4 separate regions of the Homo sapiens genome follow, and regions 1, 2 and 4 are each linked to region 3. The links come from fine-mapping of genetic effects on gene expression. A gene starts in region 3. Each other region holds a variant in brackets. All regions are shown on one strand. Distances are between the middles of the regions.

Region 1 (8,043 bases), 98 kb before region 3:
TTTGCTAAATAGGGAAAAGTCAAAACATTTCTTGCTATTTATATAATGTGAATATTATTACATTTTATTAGGATAAACTATATAATGTAACATTTACTAATACAGTGATATAAACTAAAATAATGCTTCCTTTTATCTGTATGCCAAATGATTACATAATTTAAAACTTCCCGAAGGGAGTTTTCAATAATATATTATAGTGAAAGAGTGAGAGTATCGGAAAGGGTGGTAGGCACTGATGCAAAGTAACGATGTCAATGGCACTAGGGAAATAGGAAGAGGACAATTCTGGAAAGTTCCTGCATATGAGTCCTTGAATAAGGAACTTATACTTCATTCTGCAGACAATAGTAAGTCACTGAAGGAGGGAAAGAGTAGAATTGGTACAATATTTCTGAATGATTAACCAGGCAGTGCAAGATGGCCTGGACAGGGAGTGTCTAGAGCAGGAGGCTGGGTGGGCAAGTGGGTGGGCAGAAACCTGAATGAGGGCAGTGTAGGGAACAGACAAGCAGGGACAGACAGGAGGGAGAAGGGGAAGGGGAAGTAAAGATGAGGAGGGAAGGAGGGAAAGATCCCCCTGCGGAAGAAGAATGAACAGGAATTGTTATTGTCCAGGACAAGAGTAAAGGAGGACTCAAGGTAACCTAGGAGTGTCAAGCATAATAAACACTGCTGTGCCACCAACAGGAGACAGCTCAAGAAGAGTGGCCAATGGGGGACTGCAGGTAAGCTGAGAAACCAGCAAGGGGAGAACAGAGCAGGATCCAGATGGAAATGGCTGCAGGCAGAGGAAAATGCAGCCACAGAAGAGTGTCCTCTGCGTAGTTCAGTGCACTGATGGAGATGTGAACTTCAGCAAAGGAAATTTACAGACAAGGTTGCAGGCATAAGGGTTTTACATAGGGTTGTCCAATAAAATACAGTTAAATTTGAATTTCAGAGAAACAATGAATAATTTTATGGGTATGACCCATGCAACATTTGGGACATATTTATACTAAAAACGTGTTCACCATTTATCTGAAATTCACATTTAACTGGGAGTCCTATATTTTTCATTTTCTAAATCTGGCAACCCTGGTTGGAACTGAATTAGGAGATAAACTTCTGAAAAAAGCAAACTTAGCTGGAAACAAAGCTCCATGTAGTAAGGATAGTAAAGAGAAATATTTCTGAGAGAAGAGTAAAGGAAGAAAGGCTAAGAAAAAAGATACACGCATTTGAGGTAGCAGAAACGGAAAAGCTCCCTTATGATAACCTTTCTCAAAACAAGTCAGTGTCGAAAATGCTCAGTGTGGAGTTAAATTAAGAGCCTAAGGGCAAGTGAATATATAAAAACTTCTGCTCACTTTTGTAAGTTATATTTCTTGGAGGAAGGCTAAAGACCTTGAAGTTCCTTTCAACCCTAGGTTTCTGTGACTCAAGCTTTTCATGTATAAATGTTTCAATATTTTTGGCTACATAATTTTTTATATTATTAGAATTTCTATGTATGAAAACAGAACTGTGTTATTTAATGTAGCCATATAAATGACAATCTTATAAAGATTGCTTGGTGGTGATTCCATTAATAAAAAGCAAAATGACTATTTAAGTTTTTATGAGAAAAACATGTTTACATAAGTAAAAGGCATCATTAAGAGAAAAGCTATTGTTAGAAGAAAATATTAGCATCAAATGGAACAATGAAAATCTGTCAGTTTAAAACATATCACTTTGGCGGAAAAATACTACATAACTGCACTGGTGCCTCATCCTGAAGACCTTGGGAACTGCAGACTTGCTGGGTTGATCCAGTTCCTGTAGGACTGAGATAGAAAATGAGATATGAATTCTCACTTCTTACAGTCACCGTGTAACACCGTGGCCAATTTAACAGAATACAGGATACATTTCTATTAAAAAACAAAAACAAACCAAAAGGAACAAATCAAGACTAACGTGTTAATTAACAATACAAGGGAAAACATTTGGAAGATACTACTCCAGATAAAAACATAGATTTCTTCACCTGAACGTGGGAGGCGGAGGTTGCAGTGAGCTGAGATCTCGCCACTGCACTGCAGCCTGGCAACAGAGCGAGACTCCGTTTCAAAACAAAAACAAAAACATAGATTCTTCAGCATTCAGGAAATAACTCTTTACTGTGTACAGAAAAAACGTAAATCATCATCCTCAGAACATCTCAACCTGGTCAATAAAGAACTTGCAAACAAACCTGTCTCCCCTGCCCTGATTCTTCTCATTTTTATCTTCCAATATTTTGGTAGAGCAAGAAACCAACAAAAGCTCAAACTTAAAACTAAAGAAAATCAGCTTGTCTGTACTCACTTTTAAACAATCACCTAACTTTCCCCAAAGTAAATATTGCTATTCTTTTCATAACATGATGGTCACATGGAGACACTGTGCAGTCTGGTTTTGTTTGAGGTCACTATAATAGATATTCAGAATCACGCACAGGAAGAATTACATTGTGGAAGCTTTGCACTCACTTGTTGCTGGTACTTCTAATCTTAGGTTGACAACATCAGGTAAGTTGCCAAGTACTTCCTCAATAAGCTAAAACTGTGATAGAATGATGGTTATATCATTGAGATACTTCTGAACCTCCATTCATTACTTATTTTGTCAAGTAATTTCTAAGGAGAAACATTTTTACCATACCTATACTTTGATAAATTTACTGATGGTTAATTAATAAACAACCCTATTGTACTCTTACTCGTCCTTAAAGGATTTGCAATACATGAGATGAAACAGAAGAGTTATCCTCCATATTTTTTTTTCATTAGAGAAGAGTATACTGTACTTAATATAAAAAAGCCTCACTTTTAAAAGTCATATAGCAATGCACCTGCTAGTTAGGATAGAAATGAAGTAGCCTCTCAGCATCAAAAATATAACTATCATAAACAACTCTCACCTATCAATTCCCTCAGGGAAGAATGGATTCACTTAGGTGGTAATGAAAGGGCATGACTCAGTAGTGGTCACACATGGAACTGGCGTACAGCTGCGCTGCCCAGATCAATGTACGCATATGCCCCTGGGAGGTTGGTACTATGAGAATATCCTCCAGGAGCCACTTTGTTTTAGCTCGTCTGACTGAGGCCTTAAACAAGGAAAGGAAGAGAGCTGTTAAGGGCACCACAGTAGCACAAATCCAGAGATATTAAGACTTTCCTAACTCAAGTCACAAGGTCTTCCAGCTCAATAACTAATGCTTGATGCATATCTTAGGAGATAAAGTGTGAGGGAGAGATGCCTGGCTGCCTCCCAGTAGTTATTCTCTCCTTCTCTAGTAACAAAACCCCAGATTTTAATTGGGTACACTGTCACCCAACTAAAAGAATTACATTTCCCTGAGTCACTTACAGCTTGGTATTGCCATGTGACTAAGTTATGGCTAATGAGCTCTATGTGGTGTGTGTAACTGTCAATAATTATCTTTAAAAAGGTCCTCAGGGACTACTATGAACATCTCTATGCACATAAACTAGAAAATCTAGAGAAAATAGATAAATCCTAGAAACACACAATCTCCCAAGACTGAAACAGGAAGAAACAGAAATCTTGAAAAGACCAATAATGAGTTCCAAAATGGAATCAGTAATAAAAAAAAAATCTACCAACCAAAAGAGTCCTGAGCCAGAAGGATTTATAGCAGAATTCTACCAGATGTACAAAGAAGAGCTGGTACCATTTCTACTAAAACTATTCCAAAAAATTGAGGAGGAATGACTCCTTCCTAACTCATTCTACAAAACCAGCATCATCCTGATACCAAAATCTGGCAAAGACACAACAAAAAAGAAAACTATAAGCCAATATCCCTGAAGAACATAGATGCAAAAATCCTCAAGAAAATACCAGCAAACCAAATCCAGCAGTACATCTAAAAGTTAATTCACCATGATCAGTTGGATCTTATTCCTGGGATGCAAAGATGATTCAACATACACAAATCAATAAATGTGATTCACCAAGTAGAATTAAAAACAAAAACCATATGATCATCTCAATAGATATGGAAAAAGCATCCAATAAAATCCAACATCCCTTCATGG[T/TA]AAAAAAAAAAACCCTCAACAAATGAGGCATCAAAAGAATACCTCAAAATAATAAAAGCCATCTATGACAAACCCACAGCCAACATCATACTGAATGGGCAAAAGGTGGAAGCATTCCCCTTAAGAACTGCAACAAGGCAAGGATGTCCACTCTCACCACTCCTGCTCAACATAGGACTGGAAGTCCCACCCAGAACAGTCAGGCAAAAGAAAGAAATAAAAGGCGTCCAAACAGAAAAAGAAGAAGTCAAATTATTTCTTCACTGATGATATGTTTCTATACCTAGAAAACCTTAAGGATTCTGCCGAAAGTCTCCTAGACCTGATAAATGACTTCAGCAAAGTCTCAGAATACATAAATCAATATACAAAAATCACTATCATTTCTGTACACCAATAACATTCAAGCTGAGAACCAAATCAAGAATGCAATCCCATTTATAATAGCCACACACACCAAAAAAATACCTAGCACTAGATTTAGCCAAGGAGGTAAGATCTCTACAAGAAGAATGACAAGACACTGCTGAAAGAAATCATAGGTGATACAAACAAATGGAAAAGTATTCTATGTTCATGGATTGTAAGAATCAATATTACCAAAATGTCCATACTGCCCAAAGCAATCAAATAATTCAACACTTTTCCTATCAAATTACCAACATCATTTTTCACAGATTTAGAAAAAAACTATCCTAAAATTCATATGGAACCAAAAAAAAGCTCAAAGAGTCAAAACAATCCTAAGCAAAAAGAATAAAGCCAGAGGTATCACATTACCCAACTTCAAATTATACTACAAGGCTACAGTAATCAAAAAAGCATAGTACTATTACAAAAACAGACACACAGGCCAATGGAATACAATAGACACTCCTGAAATAAAGCTGCACATCTACAACCAACTGATTTTTGGCAAAGTTAACAAAAATAAACAATGGGGAAAGGATACCCTATTGAATAAATGGTGCTGGGAAAACTGGCTAACCATATGAAAAAGAATCAAACTGGACCCCTACCTCTCACCATATACAAAAATTAACTCAGTAGACTAAAAACTTAAATGAAAGGCCTCAAATGATAAAATTTCTGAAAGAAAACCTAGGAAATACCCTTCTAGACACTGGCTTAGGCAAGGAATTTATAACTTAAGTTCTCAAGAGCAAATGCAACAAAAACAAAAATTGACGATTGAACTAAAGAGCTTCTGCAAAGCAAAAGAAACTATCAACAGGGCAAACAGACAACCTACAGAGTGGAAGAAAATATTTGTAAACTATGCATCTGATAAAGGACTAATATCCAGAATCTATAAGGAACTTAAAGAAATCAATAAGAAAAACACAAACAACCACATTGAAAAGTGGACAAAGAACAAACACTTCTCAAAAGAAGATATACAAATGGGCAACCAAGATAAAAAATGCTCAACATTACTAATCATCAGAGTGATGCAAACCAAAACTACAATAGGATACCATCTCACACCAGTCAGAATTGCTATTATTAAAAAGTCAGAAAATAACAGATGTCAAGGTTGCAGAGAAAAGGGAATCTTTCTACACTGTTCATGGGAATGCAAATTACTTCAGCCCCTGTGGAAAGCAATTTGGAGATTTCTCAAAGAACTAAAAATAGAATGACCTTTAGACCCAGAAAACCCAATACTGGGTATATACTCAAAAGAAAACAAATCATTCTACCAAAAAGACACCCACACTCGTATTCTCATCACAACACTATTCACAATGGCAAAGACATGGAATCAACACAGGTGCCCATCAACGGTGGACTGGATAAAGAAAATGTGGTATATATACACCATGGAATACCACACAGCCATAAAAAAGAATGAAATCATGTCCTTTGCAGCAGCATTATCCTAAGTGAGTTAACACAGAAACAGAAAATCAAATGCCACATGTTCTCACGTGTAAGTGGGAGCTAGGCATTGGGTATACAAAGACACAAAGATGGGAACAATAAGCACTGGGGATTCCAAAAAGGGGGAGTGGAGGGGAGGAAGGAGGAAGAGGAACAAGAGTTGAAAATCTACCTGTTGGGTACTATGTTCACTGCTTGGGCAATGGAATTATTAGAAGCCCAAACCTCAGAACCACGTAATATACCCATGTTATACACCCGCACATGTACCCCTGAATCTAAAATTTAAAAATAATAGTACTAAACATTCTCTTTAAAAATGAGGGGCTCCAAACTTCTTCTCCCACTTTTTCCTTCCTGTTGCCTAGAAGGTGCATAATTGAGCTGGAGTTCAAGCGGCCATCCTGTGTCACAAGCTGATGTGATAAAGATGGTGCAACGGCAAGGGAGAAGGAGCTTGAGTCCCTAGTGACCAGAAAGCTGCCAATACAGCCTTGGACTGCCTACCTGCAGGTTTCTTGTATGTGAAATAGTAAGTGGTTATGACTTTAAGTCACTATTGTCTTAAGTTTTTCTTCACTGATGAATCTACACCTCACAGATTTCAACTAGAATGTGTGTGTGTGTGTACAGTATATAATATATAAATATATATATTATAAAACAGCTAACATAAACTAGGCTCCTACTAGGTGTCAGGCTGTAAATACTTTGAGATATTGTGTATGTCTGTGTATCTCAAAGTTTGTGTGTGTGTGTACAGTGTAAATACTGGACACACACACACACACATCTCAAAGTATTCACAGCCTGAAACATAGTAGGAACCTCATACATGTTAGCTCTTTTTTAAATCTAGTATAACTACAATCAACTCAAAATGTATAGGTATCTGTAAACCTCCCATGGTTAGACAGATGGCAGAATTAGAAAAAAAAAATTGTTAGATGCCACAGGTACAGCCAAAATGTGAACAAGCCCTACTCTTTTTTATTTTCTATAGTCATCTCTAAAAGTCCTCAAGCCTGAAATATCTCCTAGGTATCTTCTAATTGATTTGGGTTTGTTTACTTTTCCTATTAACCCAAAGCGGAGGTTTATCTGCCAAGTTTGTTTTCTTATCTCTCTTCTCTGGCATCACCAACTTCTGTCCTTTGGTGAAACCTCTCCCTATTTCCAAATGGTGCAGATAGGACTGACAATCAGGTTGAGGAAGCCAAGGTAATCAGAGTGCTCCATGCCTCTAGTGACAGTGATTGGTCTGGGGATGGGGATGTGACTCCAGAATCCTCATATGGAAATTCTACTGAAGCTAGTAGAAAGGACAATGTCCTGTCTTAAGGGTCGTGGTTCATAAGCCTATCAGGTTGGTGCTGTCGGCCACATGGAGGAAACTGAGACTGAAGTCAACATATTTTTAGACTTCCCAGTTATGTAAGCCAATAAATTCCCTTTTGCAGGGGGTTTCCATCTCTTGTCATTGAAAAAGATCTCAAGACTAATATTAGACTAACCATTTTTCTTTATCCTTTCTTTTTTTTTTTTTTCTTTTGAGACAGAGTCTTGCTCTCTTTGCCAGGCTGCAGTGCAGTGGCATGATCTCCACTCACTGTGACCTCCGCCTCCCAGGTTCAAGTGATTCTCCTGCCTCAGCCTCCCAAGTAGCTGGCATCACAGGCACACACCACCACACTTGGCTAATCTTTTTTTTGTATTTTTGGTAGAGATGGGGTTTCTTTGTGTTGGCCAGGTTGGTCTCAAACTCCTGACCTCAGGTGATCCACCTGCCTCGGCCTCCCAAAGTGCTGGGATTACAGGCATGAGCCACCGTGCCCGGCCTAGACTGATCATTTTTCTATGTGACCTAACAAGTTCACTGGCATATTAAGGATAAAACAGATTGGGAAACTACAGCATCAACAACTTTTCAGTGTCTATCTTAATATCTCCTTAGCACCTTACATTGTTTACTCATATAATATTACTCATATAATTATTAATATCACATGGAAATTGGGAAATCTTTGCAGCATGACTTCATCTAATATAGATATGAGACTATTGCCATGATTTTCATCCTTCTAAT
Region 2 (8,043 bases), 24 kb after region 3:
TGGGCTAAGCCCTTGCACATTTCAACACATCTCATTCTAACAGCTCTGCAAAGTGGGTATTATCCCATTTTATAGAAGAGGAAACTGAGGTTCTGAGAATTTAGTCAACTTTCCTGAAGTTGCACATCTAGTTTGTGGCACAGAGGGGATTCCAAGTAAGGTGTGCCTGACCCTAAGACCCGTGCTTTCTGTACCGTACCCCAATCATTTCACTTCATGATGAACTTGACAATCGACTGTACCTGAATTCTGCTTTGTTATAACTCTCTAGCCTCCACAAACACTCAGTATCCCCCGCCTCCCCACCCTGCCCCTGTCAGCCTTCTATTCTTAGTGTGGATGGTGACCTCTGACTGTGGAGTCAGCAGGTAGCTTTTGGAGTGCCTGTAACTCAAACAATTTAATCTGACATCTCAATCCTGCCACCCTCCCCTCTGTTGCAAACACACCCTCAACTCCCTTTTCCTGCCTGCCTCTGTCCTCCTCCAGCTCCTGTGAGTTCTAGAGGGTTTCCAAACCTAGGATAGAGCCAGCAATTCATTAGTCTTTGTCCTGTTTCCAAGAATCCCAAATATATAAGAATTCCTCATTGAAAAGCCAAGCATTCTTGGGGGAAAGTGTGTGTCACCAAGAAAGCACGATTCCTCACATTGGGAAAGGGGATCGTAGTCCAGTCCAGGAAAATAAGTGTAGATTTCAGTGCCAGATGGAAGTGGATTGGCTCTCCCTGACACCTCCCCTCCCCAGCCACCCACCCCTCACAAACCACAACCGGGGAGCTTGCCTTCCCAGTTCATCTGAGGGCACTAACCGGATGACATTTTCCTCTGGAGAGAGAAGGAAAGAAGAGGCAGATTGTGTGTGTGTGTGTGTGTGCGTGTGTGTGTGTATGTATGTGTACACAGTTCTCCTCACCTACAGGCCACTTTCTGTGCAGTTCCTTTTGGCATGGACCACTTACTGTTTGAAGAGCCCTCTAGTGAGTTTTTGGGGTGGGGGTGAATCATAGGCGATGAGTCTGGCTGCTCTTCCACTAGGAGGAAGCATCTCCCTCCTCTTTGGGGCAGCTCAGCTTACCAGAAGATCTAAGGTAAATGAATAGGAAATCTGCTCGAAAGCATTTAGAAAGCAACCTCTTATGGCTGCGTTATGCAAATTCATAGGCTAGAAACAGGACAGGCACCAAGAGGAAGCACGTGAGCTGAGTGAGCAGAGTGTGTGTGGAGTGAGTTATAATCAAGAAAAGCTTTAGGAGGATATGAAGTTGCTTTTTTTAAAAAAAATTCTCTCCTTTATTATAAAAGAAACATGGATTTATTATACAAAATACATAGTAGCAGAAGACAAAAATAAAATTAGTTCATGAGCCCATCACGGGGCACTGAAAAGAGACTTTGATCTTTCTGTTCCTCTGCCCCCTTTCCCACAGCTTCCCACCTGGCCACAAACAACACTTGGAGAATCTGCCTTCCCAGGTCACTTAACATTTGGCAGTTAATGTTTCCAGTCTTTTCTCTCCACATACATTGTAAAAGCATGGTTGAATACATATTATATGTGCAGATGTTAGACAGTTTTGTATTGTGGTTTTATCTTCTGGTTAGTATTACCAACTTTGTAAATGAGGAGATAAGTCAAGTGAGGTGTGGAAAAGGGTCATGGCCACTGTTTGGTAGAGAGGAAACTGAGAACTGGGGGAAAGGGGCCCTAAAAGACCAGCTGATACCCTGTGGGATGGAGGATCTTTTAAATCAAGCTTGTTCAGCCCGTGGCCCATGGGCTGCATGCGGCCCAGGATGGCTTTGAATGAGGGCCAACACAAATTCATAAAATTTCTTAAAATGTTATGAGATTTTTGCAAGGTTTTATTTTTTTTAAGTTTTCTTTTTCTTTCTTTCTTTTTTTTTTTTTCTCGCTCATCAGCTATCGTTAGTGCTAGTGTATTTTATGTGTGGCCCAAGACAATTCTTCTTCTTCCAGTGTGGCCCAGGGAAGCCAAAAGATTAGACACCCTGTTTTAAATGACAGAAGATGAAGAGCATCTAAACCTCAACCTCCCAGCTCCTATGTGAGTTGGGAGCAGTAACAAAGCCAGCCTCCCCTTTGACCTTGGCTTGGTTTCCCTGGCCACAGATGGAGCTCTGATGCCTTTGTTGGGGTTGGCGTTGGCGTTGGGTGAGCACTGTGGTGAGCACTTCACATACAACTGATTTTCTGTTTTACAGATTTGGAAACTAAAGTTTAGAACAGCTAAGGACCTGGAGTAAGATCCATGTGGCACAGCAGCAGAGCTGCAATTCAAACGCGTTCATCTTTCTCCTAACCACTGTCCTAGGCAGCTTCTAGTTCCATGGAAGAGAATGTCTCCTGATTCCTCACTTTCTGCTAAGCCTTTCTGGATTGACTCACCAAAGAACAAGGGGTGCCCTCCCACCATTTCTGTGGAACTCAAATGCCTGAGCCCTGCTGTATGGAGTGTGTATCAAGGAGATTTGAGGAAATAAGTAACCTCAGCATCTGTTCTCACCACGTGGCTCTTCCTCCAGGAAGTTTTCCAGGTTGAATTCCACTGGATACTCATCCCTCTCCTCCTCCATTCTCTTCAGTATTAGCCTGATTCAATTCAGAGCCACTCAGTCATTGATATTGTGACCAGATGTCACCCGAGGAGCCCTGTCTTTGAGATTCAGAATAAATTAGCTGAATCTCACTGCCACAAACAGAGGGCAGTGGTTCTCAAATTGTGGGACCTTAGACCAGCAGTATCAGAATCACCTGTGAACTTCTTAGAAATGCACATCCCTGGGCTCTGCCCAAGGCTTCTGGATCAAGCTCTAGGGGTGCAGCCCAGCGATTTGTGTCTTATCAAGCTCACGTGGTGATCCTGGTGCACACTGAAGCCTGGGAACTGCTGGTCTGGAGATTCCAAAATAAGTGGTGGTGGCTTATATTTTTCACATCACCTCTGGCTCTGAGTTCCTATTTCCACTGAATTCGTTAAGATTATTAACTACCCCTAGGTGACAAGCATGGTGGCCCAGAAATTAACATGAACTCTGGAGCCAGACTGCTGAGATTTCAATTCTGTCTCTAAGGCTCACTCATTGTATGGGTGTCCCTGAGCAAGTGGCATAAATTCCCTCTGCTGCAGACCTCTTATCCCTAATATGAAATAACCATGGTATTCCCCATAGGGCAGCTGTGAGCCTTCAATGAAACTGTGTCTGTTAAACACAGTTTAACAGTGCCTTACACATAGTAAGCTCACAGGAAACATTAACTCTTATTGGTGTCATGCAAACCACGAACTCTTCTGCACTGTGTTGACCCAGATGTGGAATTACTCCCATACCCCTGGTTTACACACACACACACACACACACACACACACACACCGTTTACACAAGGCTTCATGAATGCGGTGAACTTTATGGAGGTCTGGGGAGACCAAGGGTATTTGTATTACAACAATTCAGAATTGAGCACTGGATAAGCTTATTCTAAAATAGATTGGCCAAAGGTTACACCATTTGGTCTTCCTCCTCTCTCCCTTGGTGCTCACAAGCAACTCACTCAAACAGGTCCCCCTCTTTATTATGTTGAGTAATTCAGCTGTCTTTACTCTCCAGCCCCACTCCTCAACTTTGCTCCTCAGTTCACTTTGCAAATCCAAAGACAACTTCTAAAGAATGGACCTTCTACCCTGATTCTCATGCTGGATTCCTCCCTCATAGGGAGAAGAGTAGCAATGAAGATTTATTTTTCCTACTGACATGAACTGTGCTACCTCTCAGGATGCTTTAGTGATAGTTTTGGTTTTTCTCTATAGGTATATGAATCACACGTTGTATTTTTTCTAGTAAATACTTGAGAAAGAATTTGATCCAGGAGTCTGGGGCAGAGCCCAAGGCTG[C/T]GCATTTCTAACATGTTCACAGGTAATGCTGATACTGCTTATCTGAGGTCCCACAGTTTGACTGCAATGTATTTATTTTTGCAATGGGGCATATTGCTCTATAAATGTTCTCCTGCTCTTGTTCTAAACCTTCACACCCTCATAACTAGGGATTTGATCACAGCCACAGGTTCTCAATCTTGATACTAGGCCACATAATTCTTGGTTGTGGGGGGGCTATCTTTTGTATATAGGAGGCTTATTAACACCCCGAGCCTCTACTCAGTAGATCTCAGTAACATTTACTAGTTACGAGAACCACAAAACTTCTCCAGACATTGCCAAATGTCTCTGGGGGCAGGGGGTGTGATGGGTAGCCACCCCCAGTTTTGAGAGCTGCTGGTCTCAGCTAAATAGTTCCTGTAATAGTTCAAGTCCATTATATCTTATTCTACCCCACACTTTACCTCTGTATTTAAGTTCAGGGGCCTGGATTTATTCATTGAGAAGAAAGGTATGGAGGAGTCCCAGCAGCCTCTGGATCACCCTTGATTTCCAAGGAGAATCATCAACACTTTGTGACTGCTTTTTCTCAAAGGCTCCACACTTAACCCATCTGCAGTGGAGCCAAGGACATCCAGGTCTGTTTCCAGTACCGTCTCTAGTCCTGTTAACGCTCCCCGTGTGGCGGGAAACCTCACAGGAACTAGGGAATGGCCTTTGGTTTTTGGCTTATAAATACTCATCATCACATTTCTTTTGCTGAGAAGTTTTTCAAAATCGTGTTTAACATTCTTGTTGCCGTAGTGGAAACTTTTGTTCTTTGGAGGGCTTCCCATCCTAGGCCCAGGTCAGATTCCTCAGCAGAGCTCTGAACATTTTCTAGGGAAGTTTCAGCAGTGAGATCGCACCTTTGATGCACTTACACAACTGTGGCTGGATTCTGGGTTAAGACTCCCAGGATCCCAACATACACAACAGGGAAACTATGCAGCTGGAGGAAGGGCCATGTGCCTGGGAGTCTTTCTGGGAGGCCAGGATCAAAATCCTTTTATGATTCTATTACTTTTCTGGGTTTCTCTCCTTGCCCCCTAATGTCTTAAATCTAAGATAAACAATGAGCACTTCAGTCAGTAAAAGATTATGCGTAATAACACACAATCTCCAAATTTCAGTGACTGAAAACAACAAAGGTGTATTTCTTACTCATGTTATCTGTCGGTAGTGGATCAACAGAGGGTCTCTGCTTGTTTTAGTCCCTCAGGAACTGAGGCTGGCAGAACAGGCCCTGTCTTCAATGTTGGCAGTTGCTGTTCTAAAGGAAAAGGGAGTCTGGTCCTCACAATTAAAAGCTCTAGACCACTAATGATGCTTCTGTTCATCAGTGTTCTATAGTGAAACAGAACCAATAGGATCTCTCTCTACATATATCTGGATTTGTTTTAAGGAATGGGCTCCCATGGTTGTGGGACTGACAAGTCAAAAATCTGCAGGGTAGGCCAGCAGGCTGGAGACCCAGGAAAGAGCTGATGTTGCAGCTCAAGACTGAAGGCAGTCTAGGGGTAGAGTTCCCTTCATTGGGGGACCTCGGTCATTTTCTCTGAAGGCCTCCAACTGATCAAATGAGGCCTACCCACATTATGGAGGGTAATCTGCTTTACTCAGAGTCTACTGATTTAAGTGTTCATCTCATGTTAAAAAAAGAAAAAATTCTGGCTGGGCATGGTGGCTCACGCCTGTAATCCCAGCACTTTGGGAGGCCGAGGTGGGTGGATCACCTGAGGTCAGGAGTTTGAGACGAGTCTGGCCAGCATGGTGAATTCCCAGCTCTACTAAAAATACAAAAATTAGTCGGGCATGGTAGCACACGCCTGTAGTCCTAGCTATTTGGGAGGCTGAGGCAGGAGAATCGCTTGAAGCTGGGAGGTGGAGGCTGCAGCGAGCCGAGGTGGCGTCACTGCACTCCAGCCTGGGTGACAGAGTGAAACTGCATCTCAATTAAAAAAAAAAAAAAAAAAAAAAAACTTCACAGTAACCTTTATACTGGTATTTGACCAAATACCTGGTCCCATGGCCAACTTGACACATAAAATTAACCCTTCATATTTTCAGCGAATGGGCCAAAGTTAGCCACATGACTCCACCCAACACAAGGACCCAGGAAGTACCATCCTCTGTGTGTAATCGGGGGTGGGGACCAACAATATTTGACTAAGCACCAACAACTAGAACAACTATAAATTATTTTATCTGAGGATGAAAGAAAGTATTAATCTGTGGTATTTTGACGTTAATGCATTCTACTAACACAATGCAGAAATAGTGTTAGACTTAGCTCTACCTGCTCAATTCATTCGTAGCAGAGGTCATGGAAGAACATGGGTTGTAGCATGGCCTGGCCTCCAGGGTGACTAAATTTGAACACTGTTACTGAACATCGTCCTGTTATTCTTCTGTATTGTTTTCTTTATAACATGTTTTCTGTGTGTGATGTTGCATTTAAAGCCCATTTGTGTGCTGTGTAATTGAAGTATGCCTTGCAATTAATTTGGCCTTTGTGACCTCCTTTTAGTATAAATTCTTTAGGTTCCTTTTTCTTGCTTGGATCGGAATCATCTGAAAGGGCTCAGGAGCCAGCTGTCGCTCTGTGTTTTTTGCTACTGAGTCACTGTTTCTGACAAGCCTCTCCTGAGTGTGGGCCCTCATTTCCTTGTCTAGAGTGGGGTTGAGCAATGTGATTTCTAAGGTTCCTTCTGGCTCTGACATTCTGTGTGCCTTTGTTCCACACCCTTTTTCAGTGATGCCAGTGCCAGGGGGTACAGCCTCAGGGATGTATAACAGGGTTTTCCTCCACAAAACTGGCAGAATTGTTCTGGGTTCTTATTTGAAAATGTGGCATGTGGCCTCTCATCAGTGCTTTGGCCATTTTGCATGCACTAACTCACAGAGAATGCAGGCTACACCCCAGCTGGTGAGCATCACCATCATCTCTATGCCCACTGGCTTTCTGTTTGGCTGGAGGGAAGCTGAGGACAAGAGGATGTTAGGTTGGAGCACAGGGAGGCCTGTGGAAGGCAGGGACGGTGTAGAGTCTGGCCCAGCTGAAAATGGGCTTGGGGAGCCTGGCCAGTCCTTCAGGTCCATCTGGGCAAACCTAGTCTTCAAAGGGCAGAGTCACAAGGACCTCAAATGCTACTTACCTCCTCCAGTACTAACATTTGACACATCTAATGCCTATTCATTGTTGTGAAGTTCAAATGAGGTAACTCATGAGGAAGTGCCCACAAAACTAAACACTTATGACACACTCTCAAACACACTCTCAAACAATAAGAATTACTATCATGAGCTGCCTGACTCCACAAGATTTTAGTGCTAGGTGCTAGGGACAGAAAAGTGAAAAAAAGATGCTCAGTTAATTAGCATACAATGTGATGCTACCTCTAACAATAGACTTTGGATGATGTCTTAGTTCAAGCTGCTCTAACAAAATACCATAGATTGGGTGACTTACACAGCAAACGCTTATTTCTCACAGTTCTGGAGGCCGGAAAGTCAAGATCCAGGCACTGGCAGATTTGACGTCTGGTGGTTCAGCCTTCTCACTGTGTCCTCACATGGCAGATGGGATGAGACAGCTCTCTGGGGTCTCTTTTATAAGGGCATGAATCCCGTTCAGGGGAGCTCCACCCTCATGACCTAATCATATCCCGAAGGCCCCGCCTACACATAGCATCAGATAGGGAATTCTGCCTCAACCTATGAATTTTGAGAGGACACACACATTCAGTCCATAGCAACGGGCAAAGCTTGTGAGAGCACAGAGGAAGGAGTTTTTAATGTTCAACACTCTGCTCGTGGGGGTGGAAGCCTCCATAGCAGCACTGACAGTTTAACCTGGTCTGGAAAGATGGCAAAGACTGCACAGGTGGAGGGAATGGGCATCCTAGCCTGAGTGAGTGGCAGCGTGCTGGAGAGGCTTATGGAAACCTCTGGTAATCTGGCCTGGTGGCTGGGTGGGGTGGGTGGGACCATGTGGGGGAAGCTGCGGAGGGAGCTGGTGATCAAATTAGGAAAGGTCTTGGATAATCTATGAGGAGCCTGGACTTCGCTGAATTTTTCAGTTACCAGGTTTTAAAAAACTTTTTATT
Region 3 (8,043 bases):
TTTGCAGAGAAGTGAAATGATGCTCTTACTTACAAGAGTCAGAGCTGGAATTAGAAACCAGGTTTTTCTCATGCCATATTCTGGGGTCATTTCTACCACATGACAATGAGGACCTAAAATATCTTCAAGTTGTTGGGACATGCAGTTCATGTTCTATTGATAAGTATGTACTTTCAGGAAGAAATTGTGGTAGCCATGGGCTTTTTCTCTCTTTAGCTGTATCCTTGGAAGTTACCGTGAGATAATAGAAGTCCAGGAGTCTTGTCCTGAACAGTGGAGGTTGTATCCCTTACTAGAAGTGACAGAAGCAGGATAGGCCCCAGGATCAGGCTCATGATCAAAATACCTGAAGTGTGATGTGTCTGTGCTGGATGGGGTCCAGTTCAAGACAAGTTGCTTCTGCCTTCTAGGCATTAACAGCACACCTGATAACAAAGTTTGACACCTCCCTGAACAGAGTCTAAGAGCCAGCAGATTGATACTGACCACATAAGTGGTAGGATGAAAAAGACTTTGAAATTTTGAGGCATCCTTTTCCTTCCAAGTTTCAGAAGAACTTATTGAGGTAGAGGCTTTCAATTTATTTTGCTTCATTTGAACTTTACAACAATACTTTAGGGTGGAATAATTTTCATCCCATGTTGTTGTTGAAGAACACTGTATTTTTTAGGATTCTCCTACTAATAGGAGATTCAGAGAAACAACCAACAGGATGTAGTATATGAATATTGAGAGAGAGAGAGACTGATTTTAAAGAATTGGCTTATGTAATTATGGAGGCCTGGTAGTCTAAAATCTGGAGGGTAGACCAGCAGGGGTAGGCCAGCAGGCTGGAGACCCAGGGAAGCATTGCAGTTGGAGTCCTGAGGCAGTCTGCTGGCACAGTTCCCTCTTGCGGGGTGGGGGTCAGTCTTTGTTCTATTAAGAATTTCAGTTGATTGCATGAGGCCTACCTACATTATGGAGGGTACTCAGCTTTACTCAAAGTCCACCAATTTAAATATTAATCTCATCCAAAACCACCTTCACAGAAGTATCCAGAATAATGCTTGATCAACTATCTGGGCACTGTGGCACAGCCAAGTTGACACATGAAGTTAACCATCACAAAAACTATGCTTGAGAAAGTTTCCTGCCATGCTGAGGTCACACAGCAGTGAGAGGCAGGGCTGGGATTTAACCAAGGTCTTTGGTTCAAACACTTGCTATAGTCCACAATAGTAAATCAGAGAAAGGTATATGTTATTTGCGGAGAGTCACATATTGATTAGATGACATATTCATGGGGCCTTCATTTATTCTTCAGAAAGTCTTTATGGAGTGCTATTGTGGTCCATGCTGTACTAGACTAGGATCTCTACCCCTGGAGAGTGAGCAAGTGACTTTTGTGAAGCCTGCTTCTTATCATGATAGGCTGGGCCTTGGAAGTATATAGTGAGCTTTGGAAGCCAGGTCAACCATAATGTGCTATTTGAGAATCTTTCATCAAGCAGGTACAATTTTCCAGATGAGTAGTGTGCTACAGAGGGCCTCACTGTATGTTCCGGGAACATTCCTAGAATATGCAGGTGAAGAAGGATGAAACCCCTTTCTTGGGAATCTTGAGAATAGGAGAGACTCCCACATTAGGACCCTGTGAGTGATAGGGCTGGGGGTAGGGAGTGAATCAGATGATCTTCGAGTGGGCCCTACTACTTCATGGACTCTTCAGGGCTTGCCAACCTCAAAAACAGCTCCTCAGCACTGACAGCCACGTATTTTATGAATTTCACTTGCTCCTCATCCCAATAGAACCCAATTAAGAATGCTTGGGGGCCAGGCGCAATGGCTCACACCTGTAATCCCAGCGCTTCGGCCTCTCGAGTTGAGAGAATTGCTTGAGACCAGGAATTTGAGATTAGCTTGGGAAACATAGCAAGACCACATCGCTACAAAAAAAAAAAAAAAAAAAAAAAAAAAAAAGGTTAGCAGGGCCTAGTGGCATGCACCTGTAGTCCCAGCTACTGGGAAGGCTGAGGTGGGAAAATCCCTTGAGCCCAGGAGTTCGAAGCTGTAGTGAGCTATCATCGTGCCACTGCACTCCAGCCTAGGTGACAGAGAGAGACCCTGCCTCCAAAACACTTGGGCAAGGATGGAGAGACTCCCCTCTCCCAGACCTAGAATGCTTGCTCCTCAGCCTCACTTCCCCTGTTTCTGTCCTCATGATGTCCCCAACCTGCCACCTCTGAGTCTCTGGCCCTATCTTTTTTTGTGTTTTTATTTATTTATTTATTTATTTATTTATTTATTTATTTATTTATTTTTTTGAGACGGAGTCTCGCTCTGTCGCCCAGGCTGGAGTGCAGTGGCGCAATCTCGGCTCACTGCAAGCTCCGCCTCCTAGGTTCACGCCATTCTCCTGCCTCAGCCTCCGAAGTAGCTGGGACTACAGGCGCCCACCACCACGCCTGGCTAATTTTTTGTATTTTTTAGTGGAGACGGGGTTTAACCGTGTTAGCCAGGATGGTCTCGATCTCCTGACCTCGTGGTCCGCCCGCCTCGGTCTCCCAAAGTGCTGGGAATACAGGCGTGAGCCACCGCGCCTGGCCAAATCTGATCTTCTCTTAAAGAGAGTTTGTGGAAGGCATCCTCTGTCTTCTGTATTACAATCTCACTGGTCAGAACTTGGTCTCATAGCAATTGTGAGCTACCAGGGAGTCTGGGATGGTGAATATTGTAGATTTCTAACTTCTTTAGTTGAGAAAGGCAAGGGAGAATGGGTTTGTCAATGGCTTCTGGAAACCTATTTGCAGGGTCTGCTGAAGAACAGAGCTCACCTTGCCAGTGGAGCCTTGATATGAGAGAGGGAATGGAAGGAGGTAAAAGTGGGGTATTATGCCAGGGAGAGCAATCCCACAGTGACCAAACAGCAGCTCCCTGCTGCAGGGCCCTCGGTGGCTTGGGTCAAAACAGCGTGGCCTCTACCGAGAGGCCCAGCCCTAAGACAGCTCCTTCTGGCAATCAGCTCTAACCAGCTGCTGCCAAAGAGGTAAACACATTCCAAGTCCTTGAGTCCCTGCTGCACTGTAACTGTGGTTAAAACACAACCCCGCCTCTACCAGTTTGGGCTAATGGAAAGTTCACTATAGTTGTGTTTTAATGATGATTTGCAATTATCCGTGCCCCCTCCCATTCATGGTGAGATGAATACCTAAACACTTATGTTGTCTAACCATATAAGTATTTTGCATCTCACGTGTATCATTTTAAGTTCATTTCATTCTCCAATCCTTGGGAACCATGAAGGATAACACATTACATTCTCTTTTTTTTTTTTTTTTCCTCTGGAAGATCATGCATTACATTCTCTTTTTTTCTCTGGAAGGGTGGCCCTTAAACCAAGCCATTTCCCTAAGCCCCTTTGGTGAGGTGGAGAAACAGACAACCACTAACACAGAACAACCACTGAACACCCAGAAAACTGTATACAGGTCATCACCCAGTGGGGGCACCATTTGCTTGCAGAGGGAGCTGGGGAAAATAGGAAACAGAGAAGATCAAATACTCCCCGTGAGGGTGTTGCCAATCCCAGAGAGGACAATTGCTCTTGACCAAAGCAATCTCTAGTTCAGTCAAGGAGACAGACCACAATCACATTTAAAAAAAAAAGAAAAAAAAAAACTAAAAGGAAATTTTAAAAGTATGAATAAGAGCTATTGTAAACTGCTCAAACTATGCATACAAGCAATGAAGTAAGATGAATTGACTGGCACTGAATTGGAAAAGCTATACAGAGGCAGGGAGTGTGGAACATAATTTAATAAAAATAAACTTAAAAAAATATATATACACTCCCAAAAAAGAAATGGAAAAGTTGTTAGGGCGTGGACCAGGACTCCTAATTAGCTGTTCTGTTGTGCCTGATTTCGCTCCTGTCTTGCCCAGCACCCCTTGGGACACACTGTCCAGTGCAGGGACACTTTGGGGAGGGACAGGGGATTCCTTGGCACCGGGACCTTCACCTCCGAGCCGGCCTCAGACCAGGCCATTTGCCCGTAGCCCAGAGGAGGAGCCGGGGAGAAACCCGCTGCCCAGGTGGCCACTTTTGCCTCTTTGACCCTTCCATGTTTCCAAAACAGAAGGGGCCCTGAGAACGCTCCCTGCCAAAGTGGGGAACAGCTACCCTCATTGTACGCCTCGCCCTGCCGGTGGCGCTCTCCCCCCGCCTGCGTTCGGTCTGAAAGTGTGAAAATTACAAATCCCAAGAAACTGCAATCAGAAGTCTACCTAGGGAAAATTCAGAGTAACCTTGCCATAAATATCCCGCTCCAAGACGCCTGACGTCAGAGCGGGGCGGGCGGACGGGCGCGAGGCCGGGCCTGGAGGGGCGGCAGCCGCGGCTTCCCGGGGATAGCGCGGAGCACGCAGCAGCGAGCGGAGCGCGGGCGGCGGCGCCGTACCTCGGGCTGCGGGAGCGCGGGCGCCCTGGGGTCCTCGGAGTAAGTGCGGCCGGCCCTGGCGCTCCCCGTCTTGGGGCCCGGGCCGCGGGGAGCCCTCTCCGCTGGGCTCCCACACTTCTCTCCCTCTGCTTTCTTTAGCATGCCCCGCGGGGCTTGGGGAGGCAGCAGCTCCGCAGGCTGGCGGTTTTGTTTCTCCAAAGTGTTTGCAGGAGCCGCCGACCCCGGAGTGGGCTCCCAGGGCCTGTGTGTGTGTGAGTTGTGTGTGTGTATGAGTGTGATTGCGTGTGTCTGTACTGGCACATCTGGACATAGGAAATGTCTTTGGAAAACTTTTTAAAAATGTTTTTTGCGGCTTTGAAACCTGACCCCTGGTTGTCACAAGTGGACAAACACAGAAGATACCCCGCAAAACTGACAACTTTTTGGTGGTGGCTTTTCCGGGTTCGGCTTGAACCTTCACTTGGCTGGGCTGAAGTCTTCACAAGCCCCCAGCTCCCACTTGCAGGCCTGGCCTCTGGCCAGTGGGCAGGGCAGCCGTAAGGTTCTTGTTCTCAGTGGCAGTGGGACCCTGGGCGGGGGAAGGAGCATCTCAGGAAAGGGGTCCCCGGACTCTGGGGCTCTCAGCACCTGCGGTCGCAAACCAACCTCATGCCCTGACTTTACCAGGCGTCGGGACTCTGACTTAACCGGGGAATGAGGGACTTGGTCTGGCGGCAGGTAATTTTGTGAAGAGGATGAGAAGGAAGAGGGGGAGGTGGTGGTGATGGCCAGGACGCTGTGGCCCTGTGTCCAGCCGTAGCTTGGGAGTGGGATGGTTGGTTCTGCCACATGGCCACGGTGAGGTACGTGCCAGGTTCTCCAGGAGTGCCGCGTGTGGTGCCCCAAACAAGATGCAAGCTCCTAACATAAAGAGACGTGTCTGAGCTGTGGGGTGGAGGAAGGGGGGCGGTGGGGGAGAGGGAGATTTTTATCAAAATTGAACACAGATTGCTGAGATCTGGGCTTGATTTAACTCTTCTCTCTCTGCCTCGGCCACTTCTCCACAGTTTTGGAGTGGATTTGGAACGTTTCTCGGAGGGTTAGAGGAAAATCACACCTCTCCGGAAAAGAGTCCCCATAGGTTTTCCCTTGATGCCCACGTGGGAATGAAAGCAGCTTCCCATCTTTAAAAAGTTCAAAGTCTTGTGTTTTCCCCCTTCTGAGTTTGGTGTTAGTTTCCTGAGTTTCTTTGCAAAGCCAGCTGAAGCGGGGGATGGATTTTCCCTAGGGCCTAGGGCGGAAAGTGTGCTCCACGGAGAGTAGGGGAAAAAAGCAGCAGTGAGGCTGTATCGATCCATCATCCCTGAGTAGCACAGTGCCAGGCACTGCCTGTCAATAGCTGGGTTCCACAAACGAGTGACCACAGACAGACTGAATTTTCAGCTTTGAGCTAGCCAGGTCTCTGGTTTTGTATTTTGCAGTAGAGCCAACCTACAATGTCTGGGTGGGAGGAAGATTACTGGACTCTCCCTCTGTCCTAGAAAAATGAGAAAATGAAGGGACAGGGAGGAAATCTGGATGTAAAAACAGACCCACAGGAAGTTAAGATTCAGGAAGGATTTTAGAAATTATATAAATTGAACCCCAGGGAAGCTCCATAAAAGATGGAGCAGGCAGCAATGTCAGAAACAGACTCATTTAACTTCAGGAGTACGTTGTCAACTGAAGTGTAATGAAGGAGGAGGAAATCATCCCATAGGCAATGTAAACAAGGGTGCATGTAAACAGGAGTGACTGGTCCCCATGAGATGCACATGCCTATGTGTTTTTACACATACATGACTGTGTGGTGATGGCCATGGCCTTAGACATGGGAGGATAAATGGTCTATTTCTTCATCTGTGCTGGGAACTCCATCTAACCCCCATTTCTTCCTTTATGCAAACAACTGTGCTATTATTGTCTTGCTCCCTGGTAGTTGCAAACTCTGGCTCCTAACTCCCAGCTGAGTTTTCAGAGCTTTTCCTCCAGCGCCTCGGATGCTGAGGGAATACTCGTGCCCCCATCAGGACAAAAAGAGGAGAGAACATTCTCCTGGGCATTAGAACTTAGAGAGTCAGGGGCTCAAGAAGGCGGAGGCTGTGCAGGCAAGACCAATAGGAAGGCCTGTAAATGATTTTGTTTTTGGTGAGCGTGGAGGAAGTTGAAATACTACTGCTTGCTGTGAGAACATGTTCTCTCCCCAGTCTTCTTTCCCGACTGTCTCCAAAGTTTTTGATGCAAAACAGATTAAACTCCCCATTACTAAAGAGCCTTGGATCCAGGTGTAAAGAATGAAGATAAAGGGTAAGTACAGGCAGTAGAGAAAGCATAGAGATAATGAAAGATGAGGCTTTCTTATTTGATTTTACTAGAGCCAATGGAAGTAACAAGTTTAAATGTTCTCATTCATTTCCATTATTTAAACATAGAAGACTACCCAGGGACAGAAGGGACCCCTCGGAACAGGATTCCCAGAAATACTCTTATCCCAGCATACAACTCCTCAGGGACAGGTGAGGGGCAAGAACTGGGTTTTCAACTCTTTCTACATGTGGGGTTTCTGGGAGTGCTGCATGTGGGATCAGTGGAGTCCTGATGCTTCTGGGCTTGTACTAGGAGACATTTCACTATGGCCGGGATGAATTCCCAGGCCATGGATGCCTAGGCTGACATTGAAGCCTTCTCATGGCTCATTCTATCAGTTCAATCTTCTGGCCAGCTCTTTGGTCATCTTTGAGATTAGATTAAGTAGATGGGATGCATTCCAAGACATCCTTGAAGGTCCAGAGGGCAAACACAGCTGGCAGAAAGAACAAGTTGAAGGATATCCTTGGCTTTGATAGCGGATGACCCTCTAGATCTCAACAGCCAGAGACTCTGTCAAGGATCCTGTGTCATTCAGCCCTAGACTTCAGAGGCAGCCCGACAACAATGGAAAGAGTGCAGATTTCTGATCAGCTGCCTGGAGAGAGAGAACTGTGACCTAAATACGAATTAGTAACCTGGGCTACATGACTTATTCCTTCTGAGCTTCAGCTTCCTCATCTGTAAAATAAGGATAGTATTTCCCTCCCCAGGTCATTATGAAAACATTTATGCACAAGAACTAAGAACAGAGCTCAGAATGTTATAAGACCCTTCATAAAGGGAGTGCTGTATTTTTATTTTTCAGTTTTTCAGCCATCACAAGCCAGTATTGCTTGGAAAGAACCTCTCCCCAAATCTAGCTACATATTTTCCATGATTGAAGGCTAGTGGGTGGAGTTTCTAGGGCTCTGATCATCCTTACTTCCTTCCTCTAGAAAAGGTGACCAATGAAGATATTCCATGAGCATCCCTGGTCCATTATCCTGAAGTGTGGGAGAAGAAACCAGGGATCCTGGATGTCTGGCCTAGAAATCACTCTTGTGTTTGTGCTCTTTAGGGAGGGAGAAGGACAGAAGAGCAGGTTGTATAAGTATGGTGGGGAGGGGAAAGGTAGGGAGGTGGGGGTAGGGCAGGAGGGTCAAGGACCAATTGGATCTTGAAGGACAAGCCTGAGTCAGAGAGCGGGTAGGCAGCCACTCCTTGTCAAGGGTGCTCA
Region 4 (8,043 bases), 37 kb after region 3:
CAGGATAATGCTTGAACCCGGGAGGTGGAGGTTGCAGCGAACTGAGATTGCGCCACTGCACTCCAGCTGGGTGACAGAGCAAGACTGTTTAAAACAAAACAAAACAAAACAAAACAAAACAAAACAAAACAAAACACAAGGTCGGGGGGTTGGTGGGGGGCCTTTGTTTCTTGAAGGAAACATAGTTAAGCATACTCCTGTAAAGTAGCCCAGCTCTGCCAGTGTGTGTGTGTTGGGGGGCACTTTCCTGAGCCTGGCTGTGCATTCACTCACAGAATCACCCTGTCACCTGATCACACACCCTCTCCATCGTACCAGGGATAAGATATGTCCTTCCCCTGCTCCCACCGTGGCTGTGATTGGGCAGGTGGGAATGGGGGGAGTCAAGGGAGCATAGGTGGGACTGGCTTTCTGCACCCCGATATCTGTACTGAGTGTACTGAGTGTACTCTTTCCCAGGTGTACAAGCCCTGCAGGCAGGGTGGGCTCATGTATCTCCTTGGATGTGGGATTCTCTTGCAGTTCACAGCCTGCACACTACATGCAGTGGTCCTTGTACCTCTTGGGTAGAATGGAATTGGAGGGAGACCCAGTCCTGCTCTATCATTGCTAAATGGCCCAGCACACATTATTTGGGCTTTGTGAATCTCTTAATTTCTAATGGGAAATGGGAATGAGGTTCACATTTTATGTGTCCCCATGGTGCAGGTGTGTTGGCAAATATGAGATAAGGCGTATTTCATGCCTAGTGCAGTGAACCTGGCCTCCTTCCCCATTGGACATGTGTCTTGGTCCAGCTTCTGCCTGCTGGCTTGGGATGTGGCTGCCTTAAAAGATAGTGGGGAGAAATGATAAACACACGGCTGGCATCTTCTCAGCTTAGGAGAAGAGCCCTGGGGAAGAAGCGATTGTGCGGCCTGCTCCTGGTCTCTGGTATAACTAGTTCAAATAACTGCCAGTTAGTAGCAGATTTTTTTTTTATTTTACTTTCGAGGGTCTTCTCCTTACCTGCTGGAACTCTCTGGGCTCCCTGCCATGAGTACTTTGTCATTCACAGCACAATCCCAAAGTGAGGGGCTGGGGCTATTCTAGGAAAGCAAGTCTCTTAAAAGGTGAGCATCCCTGTGGTGTCCTAAAGCTGGGGAGAAGCCACTTAGGGTTTTGGGGGACTCTCGACTCCTTCTCTTTCTCTCTTTTTCATTTCCAGTGGAATCCTCAGGTGATCGGTTGTGTAGCTGATATGCCCAATAGCTCCCCTTTCCTGGAGAACATATCCAATTTGCCTCACGATCCTCCTGAAATTCTTGAATCCCTGGACACCAGGCTAGTTTGTTTGCTTTTCTCCTTTTGCCAGTGATTTTTTTCACTTCATATTAGGACTGTTTGCACACAAAAATTAAGAAAAATGTACATAAAAAATCAGATGTGAAATGTGAAAAAGCATACTAATGGTAGGCAAATAATAATAATTAGTATGCATAGTCACAGGTTTCTGTAACTTCAACTTGGCAAATCCAAATGTCTTGGAATGACTGTCAGGAGCACCTTCTCTTTTTAAAGAGAAGTTTCTAAGTACCCTTCAAGCTTCAAAGAGAAAATCTGAGGTGAGGAAATCAGGAGAAGTTGGGAATCAGTTTCCTGGAGTATTTGAGAATATTTAAAGAGAGAGGCGGTGTAGCTTGGATCCTAGCAGGGCTCACAATATTTAGGGGAAATATTCATGAATGAATCTTGGCTAAGATTTTTGGAATTTTTAATTTTTGTTTTTATATTGCATTTTTGTAGTTGTTGTTTCCACTTAAGTAGAAACTCAGGAGAAACCAGGAAGCAAAGCAGAATTTGTCTGCGACTGTTCTGTAGTGGGAGAGAAGAGTTCTGTGCTGTGAATTCGAAAATTGGGTTCTAGACATGGCTGTGGCATGAGTTTGCTGTGGGTCCTGAGGCAAGTAGCCTGCTTCTTGGGCCTCAGTTTCTCGCCTGTAAAGCGGTCTTTAAATGGTAGTACCTTCATTCTCAACGTCTTGTGCATGCCAGCAGCTGTATGAGGGGCGTCCTGCAGATCATGTCGGAGAAAGGAGGAGTTGAGTCCATTTGCACACAGGTGGGGAGTGTGACATCTCAAGAGGGGAAGGCACAGCTATCCAGGAGCTGAAGTGGGGCGGGGGTAGTCTTTTTCAGAGTCTGATTATTGGGTCTGGGTTTGTGGAATGGTGCTTCACCACCCCAGGGAATGGTGGCCCTCACTCACGCCTTGGCTCTGTGTGTGTGGGCTCATGGAGGTGCCCCCGGGCCTGGTAGGATGCAGGGGCCTGGGCTTCAGAAACAGTGGCTGGAGGATTCTCCCTGACTCTTTTCCTTGGGGTCCTCATGCCTGGATTACTCTTCAGGGTCTCTGTCTTTGTGTGAAGTGTGATACCCCTTGACCCCCTTGGTCTGAGAATGAACTCTCTTAATGGACCAAAGGGGAATCTGGAAAATCACAAACCCAGTTTCAGAATTCAAGGGGTATAGTCCCTTCATGTCTGAGCCCTGGAGTACTTCTTGGGTCATCTTGCCAGCTGCCCAAGCTCTGCCTGCCCTGCCGCTCACACTTCTAACTCCTGCCCTCCCTGCTACCTGAAGGCTCATACCTGGGGAACGCCTCGCTGTCCTTGGAGACTCAGCCCAAAAATCACCACACCTACAAAGTCTCTCTAACGCCTCCTCCTCCCCACCAATTTCAGGTAGTAGGGTTCCCTCTCACCTGTGCTCCCACAGGCCTGTCCCTGATGAAGCACTGAGCACAATGTTTGAAAACCACTGTTCTGTCTGACTCTCGCTAGACTATTAGCTTCCAGAATGCAAAGCCCTGACTGGTTCAGTTTTGCATTTCTAGTATGTCTTAGTCCATTTGTGCCAATATTCCACACACTGGGTAATTTATAAACCAAAACAACATTTCTCATGGTTCTGGACTTTGGGAAGTGCAAGATCAAGGTGCCAGCAGAGTTGTTGTCTGGTGAGGGCTGCCCTCTGCTCCTAAGGTGGTGTTTTGTTGCTTCTTAATGAAAAACTGTAAAGAGCATAGGTACTCCTTGCATTTTTGCTATTCATTCATGCAGCCAATATTTAATAAGGACCTACTATGCATTAGCCCTTGCCAGTGGAACTATGCTATAGTTTGCATGTCTGTGTTCCTTTCCTTCCTCTGGAGGGGAAGAACACTGTGTCCTTACATGACAGAAGGAATGGAAGGGCTAAAAGGGCCTAAGCTAATTCCCTCCACCCCCCTCCGTCTTTTTTTTTTTGAGACGGATTCTTGCTCTGTCGCCAGGCTGGAGTGCAATGGTGCGATCTCAGCTCACTGCAGCCTCTGCCTCCCGGGTTCAAGTGATTCTCCTTCCTCAGCCTCCCGGGTAGCTGGGACTACAGGTGCGTGCCACCATGCCCGGCTAATTTTTGTATTTTTGGTAGAGACGGGGTTTCACCATGTTGGCCTGGATGGTGTTGATCTCCTGACCTTGTGATCTGCCCGCCTCTGCCTCCCGCCTTTTTATAATGCACTAATCCATTCATGAAGGTAGAGCCATCATGACTTAATCACTTCCCAAAAGGCCCCACCCTTAGTATTATTGCAACAAAGATTAAGTTTCAACATATGCATTTTGGAGGGAACACAGACATGCAAACCATAGCACAGTTCCACTAGCAGGGGCTAACGCATAGTAGGTCCTTATTAAATATTGGCTGCATGAATGAATAGCAGAGATGCAAGGAGAATTTATGCTCTCTACAGTTTTTCTTTAAGAAAGAAGCAAGAATGGTTACTGTTTGGATAATTCACCCAGGGACCAGCTTCACGGGATGCTGTTTAAACAGATAAATCCAATTGGCATCTCTTCTTTGTATACTTTTGTTGATGGCAGGGGCCTGGGGAGCGGGCTGTGTGTTCCACACAGGGTGTGTGGATGGGCCTGCACATGCGCCTATGACTGGTTGTGGGTAGCAAGCACAGAATGATCCTGTTTTTCTGTAAATACTGAGCCACAAACATTGGCAGTGACTTTCTGGCCATTATCCTCAGTGGTGTGTGATTCTTGCGGCTTTTCCCAGGGTGTACCAAAGGAGTGTGACTGTGGTGACCATCGATGGGGAGGCTGGCAGCACTCAGGGTGATGGACAGAACCCCATGGTTGGTTCCCTCTTAAGAGGCTTGTGTTGGAGGCTGAGTGATACCTCATTTGGCACCAGTTGGAGAGTTTATAGCCTGTGAGGGTTCTTACACTTACCAAGAGGAAATTGGGCAATAGAAATTTATGTTAATGTCTGTGGGATAACAAAAAAGCAACATGTCCCTGGGTCAGTAGTGATCTTACCTTCAGGGGTTTGTTTATTCATTGGCACACTCAGACATTTCTACTCAGTGCCTGCCATATATGCCTGTCCTCATTCTAGGGATGCAGACTGAACCTGGTCCCTGCCCTCAGAGGGCTTAGTTTCTGGTAAAAGTGCTTGAAGATTGGGAGGATGGGAGTTGAAGCTGGCACCCTCCCCAGAGCCGTTCTGAGCCGGCCCCTTGGTGGGAAATATCATTTCTCCATTTATTAGCTCCTCTGTTCTCCCCCAAGTTGTTGCTGGCCAGAAGCACCTTGGTACCACCCTTCTAGATTTCTCATGCTCCCTCCTTCCCCACGCTGAGTTAGAGACCCTTCATCCATACTCTCATCATTCCCTGTACAGCTCCACCAAGATACTTCTGCCCACTACCCCGGCCTGCTCACATTTGTACCCCCTTTCCGACTGGGAGATTTTTACAATCAGGTCTGTGTTTTATTCACTGCCGCATCCTACAGTGCACAGTGTCTGGCCCAGAGTGGGGGTTCATAGATGGTTGTGGAGTGGATGCC[C/T]ATGGGGCAATGCTGGACTGCATTTATTTCATCTTCAGCATTCACACTGAAGCCTGTGTCTATCTATTTTCATCTTTTTCTGGGTCCGTCATGGAGAGGCATGACTCTCAGAGAAGTTGCTGAAAAGCTGGGGCATTGCGAGAAATTGGAGAAATCTGGGAAGCCACAGGCTGGAGTCGCTGGGGTCCGGTGAGTCCTCTGTGACTGTCATTCCACGCACTCCCTCCCAGGGAGGGAGGCAGGTGGGCTTCAGGGCTGACAGAGTGGGGCTCTGAGTCCAGACTGTGCTTGTGCTGAGGCCTGCGTCTTCTTCATCGTGAGTGGGGACAAGTGATGCTGACAGACAGACCTACCCCTGTGGCCCTCCGGCTCAGGCAGTGCAGCTGGGCCAGCAGGAGAGAGGGCCGCCTGGGAATAGCTGGGAAGCAAGTCCAGGCCTTGGGCCCACCTCCCCCAAGGCCAGGATGTGGCGTGGGACCCAGGCCTGCGGAGGTTCCCACCACTCTGCTCCTGCACTCCCAAATGCTCCAGGCCCAGGCAGCAGGAGGGGGTGGCGAGGGGCTCCAGCTGCCTGGGTCAAGACTGCATCAGGACCAGGGCAGCTCTGCAGGCACACACCTCTGACATTTAGCCTCCACCTGGATAGCTGCCAGTGGCCCTGCAGTCCGGACCAGCTTTGCATGGGGGAGGAGAGTCAGGGATTAACCATTTCAGGCCCTTCCTCCATCAGGCAGAAACTGGTCCTCTCAGGTCGACCATGTACCAAGGACCGGAGTGGGCATATTTACAAATGTTGCCTCATTTAATCTTCACATCAACGTGAGGGTGTGGGCATCATCTCCATTTCTCAGATGAGTAAACTAAGGCATGTGGGGAGTTATGTAACTTGCCTAAGTCTACACAGTTAGTAAGTTTCATATATTCCTTCTTTATTACAAGGGCCTATTATGTACCAGGTAGTAATTCTAGTCACTGCGGATACAGCAATGAATGATAGACAAAAATGCCCCATGGAATATACATTCTTGTGGGAGGGATAATGAATACATGGGATGTATAGTCTGTCAGGTGGTGGTAAGTCTACGTGGAAAATGAAGGGAAGGGAGATGGGAGGTGCTGGGAGCGGGGCTGCTATTTCAGATGCCCTTGAAAGACCTCACTGAGAGGGTGTGAGTTATTCACACTTAGTGCTGAATAGGTGCCTGGTGCTACCCTAATCACTGTACCTGACTCACTAAATTAATCCCCACAATTAATCCCCACAATCTTTGAGGCAGATTACTATTATTATTCTCATTTTCACATGGGGAAACTGAGGCACAGGGAGGTTAAGTAACTTGCCAAAGATGACACAGCAGATAAGAAGCAGCTCTAGGATTTGCACCCAGGAAGTCTAACTCCTGAGTTCTGGCTCTTAACCTCTGTGTGGCCTCTGCCAGGGCCACAAAGACAGTAAATGGGTGGGAAGGTCAAGAGGCTTGTAAGACCCCACCTGAACAGTCCAGGTCTGTGGCCTGGGGGGTAGGCACGCTGAGGGACAGGTGCACTAGGGGGCAGGTGCACTGTGGGGACAGGAGCACTGGGGAGGCAGGTGTACTGAGGGGGCAGGTGCACTGGGGGGGGGCAGGTGCAGTGCAGGGACCAGAGCACTGGGGGGTAGGTGCACTGGGGAGGCAGGTGTACCGAGGGGGCAGTTGTACTGAGGGGGCAGGTGCACTGGGGGGCAGGTGCACTGAAGGGGCAGATGCAGTGCGAGGGCCGGGGCACTGGAGGGTAGGTGCACTGGGGGGGTAGGTGCACTGGGGGGTAGGTGCACTGGGGAGGCAGGTATACTGGAGGGACAGGTGCACTGGGGGCGCAGGTACACTGCGGGGACAGGTGTACTGAGGGAGTAGGTGCACTGGGGGAACAGGTGTACTGGGGGGACAGGTACGCTAGGGAGGCAGGTGCACTGGTGCTCACTCCTCTGCAGCTCCCTTGGTGAGGAAAGGGTAGAGGGGCCGACAGGTCAGTTGCAGTTAAACCTGGGTGAAAGTGGGGCTTGACTAGTTTGTGTCAAATAAGGAGAGGATGAGCTCCCCAGTGAGGGGGTCCCAGAGGCTCCCCTTCTCCCCTCTCCTCCTATGCCAGCCAGCCTCCCTGAGCCCTCCGAGGACTCAGATCTGAAACAAAAGTGGGACTGTTTTTTGCTCTTGTCCTCTTCTTCCCTTCCTTTTGTCTATCTGGGAATAACCCACTTAGTGGTGGTGATGATGATTGATGACATAATAGCAGCTCATATTTATTGAAGACTTACTAAACTGGGCAGCGAACATGAATAACGACACTCAGCTGTGCAGGAAAAAGTAATTGATTCTTATAATGGATAATTTTCAATGAAAAACTTAGTGTGAAAAATAAAGGTACTTTAGTCTCTGATTTAAATGAGTTGCTTTGGAGCGAGGTCCCATCAAGTCAAAATTCAAACTTCCTGTGAGGGCAGCTCCCAGTGCCCCTCCCCTGAATGGTCTGGCTTCCTGGGGAAGCTCCAGTATTTTCCTGGTGACCAGGGAAGGGCCTGGGGGCTGCAGGGTTTCTGCAGTTCTCCACGGAGCTGTACCTTGCTCTCTCTGCTGCTTGGGCCTCTGTGCTGAACTCCATTGAAGGGGCCAGGTCTGGTCCGGTCCCCAGGGCTTCTGAGGGTAGACTTGGCACCCACTGCTGAAGCTTAGGTCTTCCTCAGGCTCCTGGCTCTGCCAGGACGTCCACCCACTCCTGGAGGGCCCAGGTGTCCAGTGGCTGGTCTGGGATGTGAGGGTTCTAAATGGGTGGGCCCGAGGGCAGCCCCCAGGTAACTTCCTCAGCTGTTGCCAGCCATGTTTGCTCAGAGCTGGGTTTAGGCAGGGTTTATCCACGTGACCTTTCCCCAACCCTGCACCCTATTCTGAAATTCTCCAAGTCATTGAGTTATTTCTAATGACACTGCAAACCACCCCCTCCTCTCTTCTCTGGAGGTGGGGAAGGAAGTGGAATCCAGGGCATTTACTTTCTTTTCCTCCTAGTACTAGAAAGATTTTCTTTTTCTTTTCTTTTCTCTTTTCCTTTCTTTTCTTTTCCTTTTCTTCTGCTTTGCTTTGCTCCCTCCCTTCCTTCCCTTCCTTCCTGATGGGAGTCTCGC

The links. PIP is the estimated chance that this variant, and not a neighbour inherited with it, causes the effect. A credible set is the group of variants that fine-mapping cannot tell apart.
Region 1: its variant is the best candidate, but not a certain one, in a credible set for the expression of DAAM2 in whole blood (INTERVAL, PIP 0.89).
Region 2: its variant is the best candidate, but not a certain one, in a credible set for the expression of DAAM2 in whole blood (INTERVAL, PIP 0.54).
Region 4: its variant is the best candidate, but not a certain one, in a credible set for the expression of DAAM2 in whole blood (TOPMed, PIP 0.71).

The regions. Positions count from the first base shown.
Region 1 is chr6:39,690,052-39,698,094 of GRCh38, forward strand. The region is part of intron 3 of KIF6 (kinesin family member 6); the gene reads right to left. Among named protein-coding and RNA genes, the nearest start is that of KIF6, 31 kb to the right of the region's middle. The variant T/TA (reference allele first, on the strand shown) is at 4,074.
Region 2 is chr6:39,812,291-39,820,333 of GRCh38, forward strand. The region is part of intron 1 of DAAM2 (dishevelled associated activator of morphogenesis 2); the gene reads left to right. LOC124901487 (a long non-coding RNA gene) reads right to left here and starts at 7,521. Exons shown (of 2, transcript XR_007059917.1): 1 at 7,407-7,521. The variant C/T (reference allele first, on the strand shown) is at 3,914.
Region 3 is chr6:39,787,988-39,796,030 of GRCh38, forward strand. It overlaps DAAM2 (dishevelled associated activator of morphogenesis 2), which reads left to right and starts at 4,389. Exons shown (of 25, transcript NM_001201427.2): 1 at 4,389-4,478.
Region 4 is chr6:39,825,295-39,833,337 of GRCh38, forward strand. The region is part of intron 1 of DAAM2 (dishevelled associated activator of morphogenesis 2); the gene reads left to right. Among named protein-coding and RNA genes, the nearest start is that of DAAM2, 37 kb to the left of the region's middle. The variant C/T (reference allele first, on the strand shown) is at 4,887.